2 linked regions of the Homo sapiens genome follow. The protein of the gene in region 2 purifies or fractionates together with the protein of the main gene of each other region. This does not show direct contact. Each region holds a gene or a part of one and is shown on either strand. Other genes may lie near its edges. The genes, in order: HIBCH and SCRT2.

The links.
Region 1: the proteins of SCRT2 (region 2) and HIBCH purify together in Homo sapiens (affinity purification with mass spectrometry; one large-scale study listed by BioGRID and IntAct). This does not show direct contact.

The regions. Positions count from the first base shown.
Region 1 is NC_000002.12:190,316,882-190,321,210, forward strand, and holds the start of HIBCH (3-hydroxyisobutyryl-CoA hydrolase, mitochondrial isoform 1 precursor), read right to left. Parts: upstream 2,946-4,329; 5' UTR 2,870-2,945; coding exon 2,835-2,869; intron 1-2,834. UniProt on the Homo sapiens protein: Hydrolyzes 3-hydroxyisobutyryl-CoA (HIBYL-CoA), a saline catabolite. Has high activity toward isobutyryl-CoA. Could be an isobutyryl-CoA dehydrogenase that functions in valine catabolism. Also hydrolyzes 3-hydroxypropanoyl-CoA.
Region 2 is NC_000020.11:673,001-677,570, reverse strand, and holds the start of SCRT2 (transcriptional repressor scratch 2), read left to right. Parts: upstream 1-1,768; 5' UTR 1,769-1,969; coding exon 1,970-2,102; intron 2,103-4,570. UniProt on the Homo sapiens protein: May be involved in transcriptional regulation.

The sequences.
Region 1 (4,329 bases), on a different chromosome or scaffold from region 2:
ATGAGGCCTATTAACAACCTAAAAGTACCCTCTTCCTGTTATTTCTATTTTTAGAGACTAGGTTTTTCCATGTTGCCCAGGCTAGAGGGCAGTGGCACAATCATAGTTCACTGTAAACTTGAACTCTGTGGCTCAAGTGATCCTCCCACCTCAGCCTCCCAAGCTGGAAGGATAGGCGTATGCCACCATACCCAGCTAGTTTTTTTATTTCTTATTTTTTGTAGAAACGGGGTCTTGCTATGTTGCCCAGGATTGTCTTGAACTCCCATGTTGGCCTCTCAAAGTGCTAGGATTACAGGCATGAACCACCACACCCAGCGAAGAGCAACCTCTCTGATGAGGCTTCCTGACTCCCTCTCCCTATCTAAATCTGGCTCTCATAACTGTACTTGTCCCTTAAGACACTTACCAGAATTGGTAATCAAAAATTACTTTTGTCTAATTATGTGTTTCCTATCTGCTCTCCTTTCAGACTCCAAGGGCCCTACATAAGGAACAGTAGGAAAACCAAGTAGTCCAGAGTGGCTACAGGATAATAGAAATGCCTAGAACTGTGCTTCCCAGCAAGTAGAACAGAACAGTAGGTAATTGTTCATCCATGAATATACTGGGGCCAAATCTGTGAAATCCAGACTGGTAAAACTGTATTTAATTGCATAAGCAGAAGGGCACCTCTGTGAGATTCTGAGAAGAATGGCAGGCACTGAAGTAAAACCTTAGCGAGATTAACCTGGCAATCTTGTACAGAAACAATTCACACTGGGAAGAGGAAAAAGTGATTAACTTTGAGACTACTGTTGAAACCTGAATCCACAGGAAGAGGTTAAGGTTTGGGAGTGTGGGAGAACTTAGGTAAGTTTGAGAATCTAGAAGAATGATAGTGCCAAGAGAGACAAAGAGTAAGGGTTATACTTACGTGCAAATTTATTTTTCTTTTCCTTTTTTCCTTTTTTTTTTTTTGAGACAGAGTCTCACCCTGTCGCCCAGGCTGGAGTGCAGTGGCATGATCTCGGCTCACTGCAACCTCCCCCTCCCAGGTTCCAGCAATTATCCTGCCTCAGCCTCCCAAGCAGCTGGGATTACAGGGCCCTGCCACCACACCCAGCTAATTTTTTTGTATTTTTAGTAGAGACGGGGTTTCACTATGTTGGCCAGCCTGGTCTTGAACTCCTGACCTCAGATGATATGCCCGCCTCGGCCTCCCAAAGTGCTGGGATTACAGGTGTGAGCCCCCGCGCCTAGCCCTTAAGTGCAAATTTATATATGAGGTGCAACTGAGGCATTCAGAGGGTTGTGACCAGCATTAGAGCTCAGGGCAAGTCAGGTTAGACAAAAATTTGAGTTACCCTAAGACAGATGATTTGGGAACCAAAAAAAAAAAAAAGTCCAAGAGCTAAACTGGCACTGGGGTAAGGAGAGGCGGTGGAGAGTGGCATTAGAAAAGTAGGCCAGTACCGAAGAAGCCAAGGGAGGCCAGAGTTCAAGTGGGGCTGCCCAACACTGTCAACCATGGCCCAAGGCCTTTTTTCCTCTCAGAAACACTTTCCGTGGCACCCTATTCCCTTATACAGTTGTGGGTTAGGGTATTGTGGACTGGACCATCTTGGCCTCTGCTTTCTAGGATAATACCCACTTCAGGGCTGAGTCTGGAAAAGGCATCTCAGATCAAAGCCCCCAAAATGGTCCTGGCCTCACCTACAGAGTACTGCATCTTGGAACGTGGGGTGGAAGAAAGCCAAGCTGAATTGTGGAAATGACAGATCCTTTCCTAAGTCAGCTAACTTTAACAAACATGTCTTTCCAGTTTGTTTCTCTATTTGCTATTTGCTGACAACACTGAAAAAGCGGCAGTAACGATTACGTGTACTGATTTTCTTAGCATTTACTAAATCTCTCCATGAGCTGGTGCAAGGACAACTAATTTTAAGGTATTAAAAAAACAAACAGAAAAGCAACTCTTAAATGTATAACAAAAATTTACTGAGAATTAGGTCTGTGGATACAGTGTTAGACATCTAGACACTTTCCCCTGAAACTATTCTTCTTAAGTCAAGGAAACACCTCCATCCCTTTTCAGGAAACCCAGAAGGCAAACTCTAAGGCTTAAAGAATCCAGTAATTTAAGTCGTCCTTATTTTAAAGAAATAAGGACGGTTCTCCCTTCAAGTGGGCGCAGCTGCTACCTGGTATGACAGTACAGGGCCAGGCAGTGGGCTGTTTAAGGCGCATGCAGCCTAAAGATGATGGCTACCAGATTTCCTAGGCTGAGCTCAAAGCGCAGTGAGGGGTACTTTCAAAAAGTTAAACAATGTTTGCAAACATGCTCCCCCATGCCACGTTAAATGTCCCTCAACACTAGCCTGAAAGTTCCAAATGCCTATACTGACGCTGCAGCCATGCAAGAAAGCTGAATAAAATCACACCACGGGCAGAGAGAGGTGCAGCAACTGGCAAAGCACCTGTGTGTGCTGGCTGCACAAAACATGCCGCACAGTTCCGCTAAGCTAAATCTGTCCGTGTCCCCAGACTGCACCCAACTTTTAAGAAAGGAAAGAAACTGAGGCCAAAAGAATTAAAGTCGTGTGGGGACAAGCCTGAATTAAGAGCCAGAGTGGCAGAAAACCAGAGTGCTGCTGCAAAGAAGATGCTAGAGGGAGAAAGGAAAGACAGGGACGGGGGCTGGGGCTTGGGGAGGGCCAAGGTTGGGGTCTCACAGCGGCGCCTCTGAGCGCGACTCGAAACTTCGAGGCCAGCAGTCTCCACCCCCGGCCCTTTTCCCACTGTGGCGAGTGCCGCTGAAGAGCCTGCCCTTGGCCCCTCGCTCTCTCACTCACCTCGACATGAGCCTCCACATCTCGCGCTGCCCCATCGCCAAACACTCCGAAGCTAAAGCAGCAGAGCGAGAATCTCCCGGACCGTTCCAGCGCCTCGCGTGAGCCCCGCCCACCGCCGTCCTGCGCCGCCGGGCACAGATGACAAGTCCTCCAGGAAGCCAGAGCGACCGTTTCCGCTACGCGACGGGGAAGGGCGGGGCAAGAACGACGCCTGGAGGAAATAGTTGAGGGAGAGGAAGGGATCGGGGACCGGGCCAGGGAGAAGGCGGAGAGCGAGCTGAGGCGGAGCGGGAAGAGGGAGGATAGAACGGACTAGGGCGGATTCGCAGGAAAGGAGATTGCCCTCTAGAGGCTGTCTTAGCCCAAAGCGCAACCTGTTGTCTAGGCTTGGCCTGCCAATTTGACCAGCAGGGACTGATGTGAAAGACTTTTCTGGAATTTTAGTAATTTTTTATTAAAACGTAAACTTAGTATTCTTTGAGACTCAAGTAGAGGAATTACAGTTGATAAAGGACATCGATGTAGTTTATTCATTCCTAACCCAATACAGCCGAATTCCTTTAATATTAGGATTGAGACATTTTCATTTTTCTTGGGAAAAGTTACAGATCTCCCACTCTTCCTCAAAGACACACAAGAGTTGTCTGATTAAGACATAATAGATATGTCTTCCCAACTAAAGTAAAAGTTGCTGTTATCAGTGGAAGCATAATTACATTCAGAAAGTAGCTTACTCTTAAATGAAACCAACATTTAACTCAACTACTAGGATCCACTGTTAAATTGAGGAAAACGTTCCTCCGCTTCCAGATCCACCCAGATGTGTAGCAGAAGACATTTCATCGCCACTATTAAGTATTGACACATTTATCAGAAAGAAGAAATCCGGTGACAAATTTCAGAGAGGACACATGAAAGGAGTTATTCTTAGTACCTTGATATTTAAAGAGATACACTGTTGAGACTTTGATCAAAAATTACGTTGCTAACCTAGGTCAAATGTAATAACCAAATGCCCACTGAGAAGAGGACAGACAACAGACATCACAGAAGGAACTCCTTACCTGCAATTTGGTTTTTAACTGGCTACAGGACATCACCATCTGACATCACCATCATGCCTCATTCACTGCGCACAGAAATGAACCATTCATCTGACCTAGCATGGTTTACTGGAAAAAGCATGGGCTTTCCTGTTAGTCAGACTGAGATTCAAATCTTCCTTGCCGCCCTAGCTTCATGTGTGTGAAACCTGAGTCTCACAAGGCCTCATCGTTAGAAGGGCCCTGTGCTTGTTTTAATGCTGTGCTATTAATAATTTTTGAACAAGGAAACACAAATTTTCATTTTACACTAGGCCTGCAAATTATGTAATCAGTCCTACCCCTAGCACACTAATAGTTTAATGACCTTGAACAAATTATATAGCTTTTCAGAACCTCCATTTTCTCATCTGAAAATGGATGTGCTGATGATTAGAGGTGTTTGTGAAGAT
Region 2 (4,570 bases):
TCTCGCTCTTTCATCCAGGCTGGAGCGCAGTGGTGCCATTACAGCTCACTGCAGCCTCGAACTCCCAGGCCCAAGCGATCCTCCCACCACATCCTCCCAAGTAGCTAAGGCCACATGTGTGCACCACCACACCTGGCTAATTTTTTTTTTTTTTTTAACTATTTGTAGAGACAAGGTCTCACTATGTTGCCCAGGCTGGTCTCAAACTCCTGACCTCAAGTGATCCTCCTGCCTCAGCCTCCCAAAATGCTGGGATTACAGGCTTGAACCACCACGAGGGGCCCCAGTTTTATTCTGAGACTTCTGGGCTACACCTCAAGGACCATGATAGGCCCTGATTCAGTGGTGCCCAGAGGCCACTGAGGTCTCTGGCAATTGCTGCTGACTCACTGCATGACCTCAAGCACCTCCAAGCCCTCTCTAGGTCTTAGCCTGCAAACTGGTATTGGATGACCCAGTCCCAAAAGGACATCCCCACTCCACCAGCCTTGCATCTCATAACCAGAATTCCATTGACAGCGAGAGCCTGGAATTCCTAGAGTCTGATTCTGGGACTCTTGTGCACTGGCCATCCCACACTTGCTAAAGCAGGTCCGCCACCATGGGGCTTTGCCCAGCACCCTCTGGGCAGGGGGCTGAGCTCTCCTGCTCCTTGGTCCTGCCAAGATATGGGGGCTCCCCCAGGTTTGGGTCGGACTGGGGGTGGCGGGTCTGCTCAGATCCTTTTAGAGACAAAGGAGCTGACCTGCAAAGAGTTCCAGCAGGAGCCCCGCTCCCCCTCCCTTCCCCCCTCTCCCTTCCCAGTCCACGTGTCTCTATTGTCTGCTCCCCGCTTCAGGGAAAGACACTGCCTCGGATGTGTCAAAACCACCACCCCCCGGCAGCAGGAAAATTAATTACTGGACGATTTTCACTTCCTCTTGCAGCGCCCGCCTGAGCTAGGCACCGGAACAGGACCAACCGAGCAAGGCCAGGCATCGGCGTGGGGGACTTGCTCCCCCCACCAGTTCTGGAAGAAGAAAGTTGAACCCCAAACCCAACAGGGGGCTCCAGTGGGAGCCCGAGCAGGGGGGAGGGGAGACTTACTCTAGTGAAAGCTGAGCGTCCACCCTGGCCACTTCAGAACTGGGGGAGAGGGAGAGGACTGGAGGCGGGAGGGTGGCCGCTGGCCAGTGCGCACTCTTTCCTCTGCATCCCCTTCCCTGCGGCCCCATGTGCCTGAACCCCGCCTGCTCGGGACCGCTTTCCCTCCGTTCCCCTCGGCTTCCCCCTCTCTTTTGCACTTTTCTTTCCCTTTCTTTGCATCCCTGGGGGGGTTTCCTTTTTGTGTGCCTGGATTTCTCTTTTCCTCCCGTGGGTGTGTGTGTGTTGCTACTTCTCTCCATCTCTGTCTTTCTTCTCTCTCTGTTTCTCTCTTGTGTCTTTTTGTCCTTATCTTGGTCTCTCTGCTTCTATTTCTACCTCTCTCAGCGTGTGCGTCTCTCTTTCCCTGTATGTCTCTGTCTTTCTCCGAGTCTCTCTTCTTCTCCCCGCCCCCCTCACTCCCCTTTCTCCGTCCCTCTCTGTCTCTGCGCCTTTCTCGCCCTCACTTTCTCCCCTCCTGCCTGCTCCGGGCCTGCCCCCACCGCCGCCGGTTCAGGGGAACGTGTGCGGAGCGATTGTCCTGGGGGACATTTGATGGATTAGAGCGCCGAGCGGTTCCATTGCTAGGGGACCACCTGATCTCCAGCCTGCGTCCCATATAAAGCCGGCAGCCGGAGTGCTGAGCGCAGCTCCCGCGATCCCCTGTCTGCGCGCCGCCGCCGCCAAGCCCGAGCCCGAGCCGGGGCCGCCGCCACCGGTGCCGGCTCCGAGCGGCCTCCCGCGCTCCAGCCCGCTGGGAGCTGTCCAGTGCTGAAAACCCGCGCGGACACAGCCGATCGCGCCCGGCCGGCCGCCTCCCCGCACCGAGCCCCGCGCCGGCCGCGCCATGCCGCGCTCCTTCCTGGTAAAGAAGATCAAAGGGGACGGCTTCCAGTGCAGCGGGGTGCCGGCCCCCACCTACCACCCCTTGGAGACAGCCTACGTGCTGCCTGGCGCCCGGGGGCCTCCCGGGGACAACGGTGAGTGGGACCCGGCGGGGGCGGGGGGTTGGGAGAAGAGGCGAGGGGAGCTGGGGCCCTCCCCAGCTTGGGCCACGAGGAGGGGCGCGTGCGACAGGAAACCCCCGGGAGGAGATCTCTCTGGCCGTGGGCTCCTCCCGGGCTTTCCAAGGGCCGTGCGGGCGGGGCAGGGGCTAGGTCGTACAAAGGGAAAGTCGCGGGGTCGGCCCATCCCGCAGCCACGCGCCAGCCGGGACTTTGAAAGTTGTGGCCCTCAAATAGGGCTAGAGTGAGGGGGTGGCAAGAGAACACAGACGGGGCTGCTCGTGAAAGGCCAGCGCTGGGCACTGAGGCACAAGGCACTTTGAGGGTTCCCTCTCCCCCGTTGAGGAAGAGAAGCTGGCTGCCCGGGAAGGGGGAAGGTAAAGAGCCCTGGATGTTCAGTCCCTGGAGAGACAGGGTTGGTTCCCTGGGGGTGGCTGGGGGCGCCCTCCCTCCCTTCAAACCTGCTCCCCTGCCGATGTCACACAAGTGCTCTCAGACCCCCTCTCTCAATAACTCTTTTGTTACCCTCAGCCACATGCCTGCCAAAGGCTGGGCCTGTCCTGGGGACTGCAAGAAAGAGAGGATTTCTGGGAGGGGTTCCCCCAAAGTGGCTCCTGGTCCCCTGGATTGCACTCCTTCCCCATCCCCAGCTTCTCAACCCCCTCCAGAACCAACCCTGCTGCTCCTCGTAAGCCCCCTCCTCACTACACATACACACACACACACACACACACACACACACACACACACACACACTCCATCTCTTCTCAGAACAAGTTCCTGCAGGGACAAGGGTTTGAGGAACAAGAGAAGTCATTCAGGTGCAGAAGGGGGTGATCTCTGGAAGGCAGGGGAAAGTGGAGACTGCTTCTGTGGATCCCATCCTCCACCAAGGGGATCACAAAGGGGTTCTCCCCTGATGGCCCCCACCAGGGCAGGTGTCTGAAGAGGAGGTGTCCCTTTGGTAGTGAGAGATCTGACATCACATGTGGCAGCTTTGGGTTGTGTGTGTGTGTGTGTGTGTGTGTGTGTGTGTGTGTGTGTGAGAGAGAGAGAGAGAGAGAGATGGGGGTGGGGAAAGAGAGAGAGAGAAAGAGGGAGATTGAGAGAGGAGAAAAGAAAGGACTGAGGATGAGGGGGGAACTGAGATGGCAAAGACAGGAGCCTGGGAGGATGGGGGCTTCCACCTCTGGGATTTCCAAGCACTTCACCCACATTCCATCACTCTGCCACACCAGGTAGAGAGAGAGAGAGTGCTGGGCAAAGGGCTTTGTGACCTCATCAAGGTCAAAGAAGTTACAGAGTGATCAGGGATACAGCTACAGCCCCTCATCCACTGGCATCCCCCAGACCCTTAACAGAAACCCCTTCTCCTCTGCCCACATGTCCCTTATTCTACTGTCCTCTTTTCTTGATCACAGGGCCTCTTGAGGTGGAGGTCAGAAGCCCAGGGACATGGCTGAGCAGGGCTGAGGGCTGGCAGGACAGAGGGTGGACCTGGGGCCATGCCAAAGCTGGAGAGTGTGCGCTCAAAGCTGGTAGAAACTGAAATATCTGCAAGCTTGGGATATGGATCTCTTAAGGGACTGACACTGACACAAAGCTCTGGGATTCCACCCCCTGAAGCCCCGTTGGTCCTGTCCCCAGGCCAGCTGAGGAAACCCAGAGAAGCCCAGAGAATTTCCCATGCACAGCCAAAACTGCAGGCTGTTCCTCAGGAGGGAGGCAAGAGAATGCCTTGCCTTGAATTCAGTCCAAAAAAAAGCTTTGAAAGGAGCCCCTGAGTGAATAGTGGGAAGCAGGGCGGGTGCAGAGCCACCAGCAGGGTGTTTCTGCAGAGGTTCCACCGGGTTTAACACCCTAGAACCACCTCTGTCTTTGTCCCCTTCCCCATGGGTCTCCAGACCAACTCCCTCACCTCTCAGGAATCCTGAGGCTGTGCTGATAGCCAGAAACCTGGCCTGAAATTTGGAGGCCTGGGCTCTAGATCTCTCACATGCTGTGTGACCTTGGGCAAGTGCCTTCCCTTCTCTGGTCCTCAGCCTCCCCAGCAGTGAAAGAGTTTTGATGGCATAAACTAAGCATCCTTCCAACTTTGACAAGCTCAGCTTCTGTGAAGGTCAACTATGGAATGTCAGGCACTGGAGATGCCTGCACAGGGGTCTAACAGGATGCTGGGAGGCCACTGTCAGGGTTTCCTTAGGGCTCCACTGAACATACGCCACCTGGCTGAGGGTAGCGGCATTTCTGGGATCGGGCACTTTTCTTGGCTTTGGTCTCTGTAGGCTACCCCATAGTGAGGACAGGCACCCTGGCCTGGCCACCTTGGCAGTGTCTGCAGTGGACGGTCAGTGCCAGAGACCAAGCCTAGGTATGACTGGGAAATACAAAGTCTGCCTTGTCTTGTTTTCAGGGGCCTCTTCCCTCCCTGGGGTGCGGCCAGA